Linked DNA regions of Homo sapiens: region 2 is reported to be linked to region 1. Evidence: microRNA targets listed by miRTarBase, many of them from high-throughput screens and not tested one by one. Region 1 holds a microRNA gene; the other region holds the end of a gene's coding sequence.

The links. The annotated mature microRNA hsa-miR-200c-3p reads UAAUACUGCCGGGUAAUGAUGGA and lies in region 1 at 1,569-1,591, shown strand. An mRNA with a match to its seed (bases 2 to 7 or 8) in the 3' UTR can be bound and repressed. Matches are read on the target gene's strand: a 7mer-m8 pairs with bases 2 to 8, a 7mer-A1 pairs with bases 2 to 7 and ends in A, and an 8mer does both.
Region 2: miRTarBase lists WIPF1 as a target of hsa-miR-200c-3p. Seed matches in the 3' UTR shown: 7mer-m8 at 2,765-2,771, 8mer at 2,809-2,816 and 7mer-m8 at 2,829-2,835.

Annotation. Positions count from the first base shown.
Region 1 is chr12:6,962,174-6,966,863 of GRCh38, forward strand. MIR200C (microRNA 200c) reads left to right here and starts at 1,526; the gene lies at 1,526-1,593. It overlaps PHB2 (prohibitin 2), which reads right to left. Exons shown (of 10, transcript NM_001144831.2): 8 at 4,251-4,327; 9 at 3,738-3,743; 10 at 3,154-3,539. The coding sequence ends at 3,512. MIR200CHG (MIR200C and MIR141 host gene) reads left to right here and starts at 1,072. Exons shown (of 2, transcript NR_135032.1): 1 at 1,072-1,175; 2 at 2,028-2,274. MIR141 (microRNA 141) reads left to right here and starts at 1,924; the gene lies at 1,924-2,018. It also overlaps LOC105369634. RefSeq lists enhancers at 1-184, 185-986, 2,769-2,818.
Region 2 is chr2:174,558,484-174,562,824 of GRCh38, reverse strand. WIPF1 (WAS/WASL interacting protein family member 1) reads left to right here. Exons shown (of 8, transcript NM_001375834.1): 8 at 223-3,251. The coding sequence ends at 278. Among named protein-coding and RNA genes, the nearest start is that of WIPF1-AS1, 15 kb to the left of the region's middle.

The DNA of each region.
Region 1 (4,690 bases):
CCTGGAAAGGCTGAGACAGCACAGGTCCCAAAGCCCAGAGGCTGGGCGTGCATTACTCAGCAAATCCTTACAGAGCCCCCGGCGTCACAGGCATTCACAGTCCCCCGACCTCCTGGAACTTAGGAGGCTGGTCAGGGAGACAGATTCACAAACCGATCACAAGCATCAAATAATTGCAGGCGGGTATTAAGAAGGAAGCAAACAAAGCCTGGGAGAGAGAACAGCGAGGGATTGAGCAACCCAATAGCTCCCTGGGGCTGTGGCCCTCCAGGGCACGGGTGGGGCAATCACCTGTCGGGCCCAGGTCCCCTCTCCCAGCAACGCCCTTTCTATACAAGCCGCAGCTGCACAAAGGCAAGTCCCACCTCCTCTAACCGCCCTTGGGCTACCTGCCCTTGGGGTGGGACTTGGACTCCACTGAGGGCTGTGCTGTGAGGTGGGTCCGGGAGCAGCTCGGTCCGGAGAGTGGAGCGCGATCGTTCCCTCTGCAGGCCTCAATCGAGGGGCAAGGCTGATGCTCCGGGCCAGCTGGGGTCTCTGGGTAGCGGTGGGTAACTTCACACTAGCGACACCTTGCTGGGACCCGCCTGCCCTTCACAGGCCTGGCGGGGCCTTCTCCCTCCCCTTTCCCTCAGGGGATCCCAGCACAGGCTGGGCACTGCGGGGCGGCACAGCCCAACTCCTGCCCAGCTGACCCCTCGCTGACCTCAGGGATCTCTCTGGCCTGCAGCTCCGCTGTGGGCAGGGTCTGAGGCCACAGAGGAATGGGCTAGTCCTGGGGGCAGCATCTGCTGTGGGGAGGGGACCCAAGGACAGCCCCCGCTTTTTGTACCTCTGGAGACAGGGGTGAGACTAGGCAGGTTGGAGAAAAGAGGCCCCTGGGAGAGGGTGGGAGGCCTAGAGGAGTGGCCAAGCCTTAGAGGAGGTGCCCGTGGCTGGCGCTGGGAGGGAAGGGGTTAAGGCAGTGGGGGGGCAGCCTATGGCAGGAGGACACACCTGTGCGCAGGGTGGCAGGCGGGGCCCAGGTAAGGAGCCTGCGCTGGCTGCCCGGCAGGCGGAGAAGGAAGGAGGAAGAGCGGAGGCCAGGGCGGGCTCTAGGCCGTGGAATCTGGGGCCTTAAAGCCCCTTCGTCTCCCCAGCACCCACTCTCTGGGGGCAGGTGGGCCCGGTGACAGGTAAAGGCCACCAGGGGAGAGGTCCTGGGCTGAGCTTGGGACTGCAGAGGGGGGATGAGGGTGGGTAAATCGGTGTGTGTCGCGGGTCGGGAAAGGCTGCCGGGGGTAGGGGAAGGTGGCTCAGAGGCGGCGGGCCGACGGTCGAGGGGCTTCGGAGGGCCTGCTTGGACTGCAACCTGGGCCTCGTGATCAGCGACCCAGGGTGTGGCTGGTGGCGGGCAGCAGGGCTCACCAGGAAGTGTCCCCAGGGACTCGGGTGGTGGGGGGATGGGAGCCAGGGATCTGCAGCTTTTCCGCAGGGATCCTGGGCCTGAAGCTGCCTGACCCAAGGTGGGCGGGCTGGGCGGGGGCCCTCGTCTTACCCAGCAGTGTTTGGGTGCGGTTGGGAGTCTCTAATACTGCCGGGTAATGATGGAGGCCCCTGTCCCTGTGTCAGCAACATCCATCGCCTCAGGTCCCCAGCCCTTAGCTGGCTGCAGCCCCCTCCCCACTTCCCACGCACCCCGGAAGCCCCTCGTCTTGAGCTGAGAGCGTTGCACAAGGGGTGGTTCTTGTTGGCTGGCTGCCACTAAGGGACACAATGGGCCCCAGCCCCTCCTCCCACCCAGTGCGATTTGTCACCTGGTGGATCCAGAACCCACAGTCGACCTTGAGCTTGGGGTTGGCTCGCCCCCTCTCAAGAGACCTCACCTGGCCTGTGGCCAGGGTCCCCTGTAGCAACTGGTGAGCGCGCACCGTAGTTCTCTGTCGGCCGGCCCTGGGTCCATCTTCCAGTACAGTGTTGGATGGTCTAATTGTGAAGCTCCTAACACTGTCTGGTAAAGATGGCTCCCGGGTGGGTTCTCTCGGCAGTAACCTTCAGGGAGCCCTGAAGACCATGGAGGACTACTGACCAACAACCTCTGACCTTCACCCCTCTGGATGGGGGACGAATCACTAGGCAAAGGGGAACAATGGGAAGGAGACAAAATGGCTGCCTTTACAGCTGCAGCAAGATGTGGAAACACTGGTTCCCTAGGCACCTCCATTGTCTTCCCGCCTTGGGAGCATGAAATAAATAAAGTGTGAAGGGGAACATGAGGAAGACTGATCCAAGTCACTTGACCTGTCTTTTGTCTAGTTGTTTATCTCATCTTAGCCTCCCAGCAACTCAGGATTGGGGCTGCGACGTCTGCTTTGTCTTTCATGATACTCAACCCCAAGCAGAGAAAAATATCTTAAAAATCGAAGCAGATTAACCCAGTCCCTCTGTTCAGATCCACCTGCTGCCCTATCTGCATTTGGCAGTTCCTGGACATACTTTGCACCTATGTTTTGTCTGAGTTCCACATCTTCCTTGTCTCCCCGCAGGGATGGGAAATGGGCAGTAGTGGGAGATTCAGGTATAAACGGTGGCTCTGTTTCTCTGGTGCCTGAGATTCGGGAAGGCCTGTCTTGGGAAGATAAGTGTCAGCTTATCTGTGGACTGAACAGACAGGCACCTGTTCTGTTGGCCCCGGAACTGCGGGCATGAAAAGCCCACCTCCCCAGGGGAGGCCTGTTAGCTAGCAGCTCCTCACGCCTGGTGACTGAGAAATGGAGTCTGGGGGGCCTACAGCAGGCCACGCGATCCACTGGGCTTCTGGGCACAGAAGTGCCTCAACAGGCACAGGCAGGCTCCCCACAGCCACAAGGAACCCTGCTGCCAAGGAAGCAGCTCCTGTTGGGGTCATCAGATTTTTAATCTGGCTCAGCAAAGCCATGGCTGTCCAGCCTTAAAAAAATGGGTGATGTGGGAGAAATGGAGGGTGTGTGAAGAGCACAGCTGGGCCTCGAGAACTCAGGGCCAGCCTTCCCAGCTTGGGTCCTGTTTCGGAGCCCAGGCCTTGCTTCCCCTTAGCCGCCCCAGCCAGATTCTTTTGCGCCCCCTGCTGGCACACACAAAGACAGACCCAGGAGCGCACATGTGAACGTGCGCATGCTTGCTGCCAGTTACCCAGTTCATGAACACGTGAAGCCTTGACTTCAGGTTAAGTAATAAAAATTTATTGAGAATTCCTGGGTTGGTGTTTATCTCCTCCCAGCCTTGAGGGAGGGAACAACACTGTAGGAAATCACTGAGAAATCACGCACTGTCCCCAACAGCCCCAGTTAACACAGGGAGGAGGAAAGTAATTCCCCAGAAAAGGGGCTAGTCTTCAGTCTTCCTTAATCCAAGAGGGGTTCAGGGAACCGGTGTGGGGGACCATCGCATGATACTGGGGCGGGGTAGGGCTGTGCTGGACCCCTGGCTGGCTCCTCAAAAACTGGAGAAGCAGATCCACTTCCTCTGGGGGTGGAGTTCTTGGTGACTAGGCTCATTTCTTACCCTTGATGAGGCTGTCACTGTAGGAAAAAAAAGATAGATAATGACATTATTAGGGGACATAAATGTGAGAGGCAGGACACTCTAGGCCATTCCCTCTACGACCCTCCTACCCTGATTGAGGGTTTGTCTTCGGGGAGGTGGGAAAGGGGGTAGGGTAGGAGGCGGGTACTGGAGAAGGTGGCCTGCAGGACCCCACAGAAGCAACAACAGCTTACCTTCCCCTGTGGTGCCAGATCGCCAGATGAACAAGAAACAGAGAAGAGAAATGCACATGTTAATTGACAGCTTCAGGCCCCACTCAGCTTTGAACCCTCCTTTGCTCCCAAGAGAAAAGATAAACAGGGTTGACAGCCAGGAATCTCAGGCTCATGAAAGGAGGAGGCATGTTCTCATGGCCACTGCTATTTCTCATCTCCTTTCCTAACATCCCTCCATTCACCAGAGGAGTTTGAGGGCTCTTGAGTAAGAAAACTGAGTATCATCTTTCATCACTTTTTGGTTAGATGAAAACTTTATAATTAAAGTGCTTTTTATGTGAATAATCCTATTTGATCTCATAAAATCAATCCTATGAGATGCAAGATAGAAACTGTCAACCACCCCCTTTTCTAATTTTGGTTCAATGTCTCTGAGCCATATGAATAGCTGTAGCAGGCTCCAGAGCCCAAACAACCAGACTCAGGTCCCACGTTCTTGGTGATACCCCACAGTGTGGCCACATCTCTCACCTGGTGAAACTTTCATCCTGTAGGTTCAGCACAAGGTTGTCAGCTGTGAGATAGATACGATTCTGTGATGTGGCGATCTACAGGGCAGGAAATAAGACAGATGCTTGCATTAAGCAAAGACCTCAATTCCGACCCCTGCAATTCAGCAGCTACTTAACATGGAACACATGCAGATTAGGGCAGGGGTGCAGCAATGAGTAACACATGGTTTCTGCTCGCACTTAGGGATCCAGAGCGCTGAGCAGCAGCTATGATTAGAACAAAAGGTCAGGGAACCCAGAGGAATCATTCTTGACAGGAGGAGTATCGGAGAAGCCAATTTTTTATTTATTTATTTTTGAGACGGAGTCTTGCTCTGTTGCTCAGGCTGGAGTGCAGTGGCATGATCTCAGCTCACTGCAACTTCCGCCTCCTGGGTTCAAGTGATTCTCCTGCCTCAG
Region 2 (4,341 bases), not on the chromosome of region 1:
AAGTACTTGGGAGCCAGTGATGGATCACCCACCATGATGTTTATTCAGAACATTACTTGCTTGTTTTCACCTCTCACTTCTCATCCACAACATACGCCAGTTAGCTGACAGCCCTGGTCATAGGGATGAGGTAGTGGGTACCCGTGCAACCATCCCCGAGTTTCCACGATGAGAACATCAGCTTTCTAACCAAAATTATATTTTGTCTGTTTTTTCACCAAGGTGGATCCAACCGAAGAGAAAGGGGTGCTCCACCACTCCCTCCCATCCCGAGGTGATCTTTGCCTGCTCTTCTCTACCCAAGCTCAAGAGCTGCTTCTGTTGCTATCTAAGAACTGCATACCCTCCTCCCTGCTTCTTCCCTTGTGCCTCATGTATGGGCAGGAGGAAAGGTGGGAGGGGGAGTGGGAATATGCGTGTGTGGGTGGGAATCGGTAAGAAATGCACCTAGCTTTTCATATTGTGTTTATTCTCCAGGCTATTGCTTGCTTCAGCTGCAGCCTGCCTGTGCTGGCTGCTGGGGTCGATAGGCTTTTGTCGTAATAGGCAGAGATGACTTGCATCCCAGCTTTCCACCAACCAAATTCAAACATTCACTGCTTATTTGTTACAGACTGTAATTATTAAAGTCCCTGAGAGCTGTTTTCTCCCGTTCCTTTTTCGCATGCTTGGCCTCCTCTCTGTTTCTATGAACCACAGACCACCTAAGCAAGCTGCTGAGTAAGGGCTCACTGGAAACTTGCAGTCACAGGATGTCCAATCTTTGGCAGTCCGAGCTTGGCTCTAGGACAGAGCTGTCCAATAGAAATATAATGTGAGCCCCATATACAATTTTTACATTTCTAATATATTTTAAACAAGTGAAGTTAATATGCATCCAAAATATTTCAACCTGTAATCAACATAAAATTTTAATGAGATATTTTATATTATTTTTTGGTACTGAATCTTCAAAATCCAGAGTGTATTTTACACTTACCGCACATCTCCATTCAGACTAGTCACATTTTTAAGTGCTCAGTAGCCACATGTGGCTGGTGGCTACTGGATTAGACAGCACGAGTCTGGAAGATGGAAGCTAGTGCAGAAACCTCTTGTTTAAAAAACAAAAAAGGCAAGATGGGCTTGAGCGATTCAAGAGGCAACTAAAAATAAAATTAGGACCCAGCACCTTGTTTGACACACAGTTTGACCTTCGATTTTCCTCCCTTAACTTCCCTCTTCCCTTAATATCTGTATACAAGTGTTGCTTCAAAGTACCAAGGTCAGAAATTGATTGAGTACGGTTTACTAAAGTCATGTGGAATAAAGCCATTGGAAACAAATGGAAAGCCTGTCGGGACTTCTGGGCTCAGAACCAGCTGGCTCACGCACTCCACTTGTCAGCTGGACTTCTGCCTTGTGAAATGGAAGCAGCCTTTGTTCCTTTCTGGCTGAGCAAGCTCCTGAGGCTGGGAGAGACTAGGAAGGCTTGGTAGGAGGGGAAAAAAGTCAGGAAAATATATCAAATCAGAAACATGGAAGAAGAAGGGAACCGATTTGAGTTGGTGGGCAAAACTCTAAAAATCTAAATCTGATGCTTATGTAAGGGTTGAGCGAATTAGGGAGATTGCTAGTGGAAATTGGAGGGAATTTGTTTTGCATCATTTGTCTAGGATCTATGCAAATATAGCTCCACTAAAGGACCATAGGGAAGAGCCAGCCTTGCCTTTTCTTATATGATTTTGTTTACAAAATTTTACTGGGACTTTTAAATCTAGCTATAGAGTTGGGAAAAAATATTTCCACTTAGATATTTTACATGGTTTTGTTTAAAATTACCATTACTTGTTTTTTAAAAACACATGACCACATATGTATATGTATATCTACCTAAACATTGTATCATGGTTTCAGTATGTTATTCATGTATTACTGGGAGATGCTACCAAGAAACCAACCCAAAGAAAATTCTGAAAAATACATTTCTATTTATAGAATAAATGTTTCATTTATATAAAAGCAAAAGAACTTAGAGTTCTAATAAATGGGATGTCTAATAAATTATGAAGTTACTGATTTGAATATATTATATTTCTATAACTTCCTTGCCAAAGTCCTGATTTAGTACATTAGAGAACCTGTGTTTCCTCTCTCCTCTACCATTCATCTCTCTTCCATACAGTCATTTGGGCTTTTTACTCAAAGAGAATCAAGAAATAATAAGGTATAACAAGCTTGGCAAAGTGTTGGCTTTTTAAAAAAAAATTTTTTTAATCTCTAGCAGTTTGGTAATTTAGCAGCATCATTTATTTGGGATTCTTTTATCTGATTTCAACAGTGAAAAACATCCCTATGATAAAGCCTAATGACCCATTTCACAAAAGATGGAATTTGCCCTTCCTAGAAAATATGACGGAGAAAAGTCTGACTCAGAGAAAGTGGGTCTGAATTTTATAAGGGGTAGTAAGAATTGGACAATTCCTTTGCATATCTGAACTTGGCAGGTACCGTTCTAAATCTGAAACAGGGTGATAGCTCAAAGTTGCCATTCATCCAGAATAGATTGTTTTAGAATGTAGTGTTTAAGTGACTGTTTCATTAATACACCTACACCCTTTCTTTGAAAGTTTGCAACCTAATTGCATCTAAAACTATGAATAAGTTCTGTGGTAAAATCTTAAACTATGGAAAATTACAAAAATGAATTTTTCTTCCCTGAAATCAGAGCTTACATGTGTGTTTTTTTATAACATTTTCAGATAAATGTATTCAACATGTAATACAGTATTTTAACATTCACCTCTTATTTTATATTGAAATGTATTACAGTATTAAAACTCAGTGTTCAGTATTTATTTCACTATGCATTTTATTTAGTAAAAGCCAGGAGAAATGTTTAATCCAATGGTGCCTTACTTTGTGATTTAAAAGAAATCAACTTTTTTTTATGTCTAAGTAGTAGATTATTTGCATATTTGTAAAAACTGTTAGGTCTTTATATTTTAAAGTGTAATACCAGTTTTGTTATTTTAGTAGCAGAAATGGGATGATTGTTAAAGTTCCCCAAAAATGTTGGCATGAAATTAATTTTTCCCTCCTTATAGTCAAGGACCGTAGAGGAAGAAAAACTTTTTTTTCATACCATGCACTATGTAAACAGACACATTTTGCTATCTGTGTCATCAGGATAGTGTAAGTGGTAGGGTAGAGACTACCCTAGACATCTGCATCTTTGTAAGTTAGCCAGACAATAAAGAAAAGCAGAATGATATGGTGTCAACTGGTGGTTTTTCTTTTAAGTATTGTTTATGTAAATATAAACAAAAAAACAAGTGTCTGTTTTCGGTTTTAAACTGTGGAAAAGAAAGACAAACAAAAAAAGGTTTGTATAAGTAAGTAAATATTCATTGTACCTACTTGCTAATCCCATCTTCGTTTTTTCCGAGAATCTGCATCTTAGTCAAAATCTGTTTACTTGAGGCAGATGTTTGTACTAGGAGGTAAAGATGGATGGCTGAAGCAATGGAAGATGAAATTACAAAGACTGGCATGGATACTGATAAATACAGGAAAGGCCAATGGGAATTTAGGAGTCTGATAACTTTCTTAATTATCTGCTGTATGTATACATACAGATCTCAATATAGAAGAATGGCTAAGAGCTTAGGAAGACCTGGCTCCGTGTCTTACTTGCAAGTCACTTCACTAAACCTGTTTCCTTATCTATAAGGTGAGGAACTATCTTATAGCATTAATATATGCATTAAATGAGATAATGCACTCAGCATTTAGCCTTAGTGTAAGCACTCAATAAGGAGTAGCCACTATTAGTGTGAAGTAGGAAACAAATATTTATATAATGATCCCAAATTAACTGGAGCCAAATCCACTAGAAGGGGATCTACTAGTGTACTTTTAAAGGAAAGGAGCACTAGCTCCTAGATTGAAAAAATATCCATATCAGAAATGCAAAGCAACTTCTACATAAGGGTCACCTCACCTACCATCCTCCCTGTACCTCCAGGCCTGGAAAATGAAATTTTACCGTGCTTCAGTCATCAGAGAAGTATTATTAGGTTCAGTATGAAATAACAGAAATTAAGAGCCAGAACTTCGCAGATGGGGCAACCTTAGAATTTATGATCCACAATGGAACATTTTTGAGAGTGGAAGGGGTGCTAATAGTTGCAGTGGCAAAGCAGGTATAAGTCTGGGTTGCCTTGGAAAATGGGGCCGTGTGGTCACCCCACTCAGAGGTCATCCAGTCCAAACGTCTGGGCTTACAGATGGGCAATTTAAGGCCCTAAATGATGTGACTTCTCACTGTACTGTCCCATCTTCATAGTCTTTCCTGCCCCT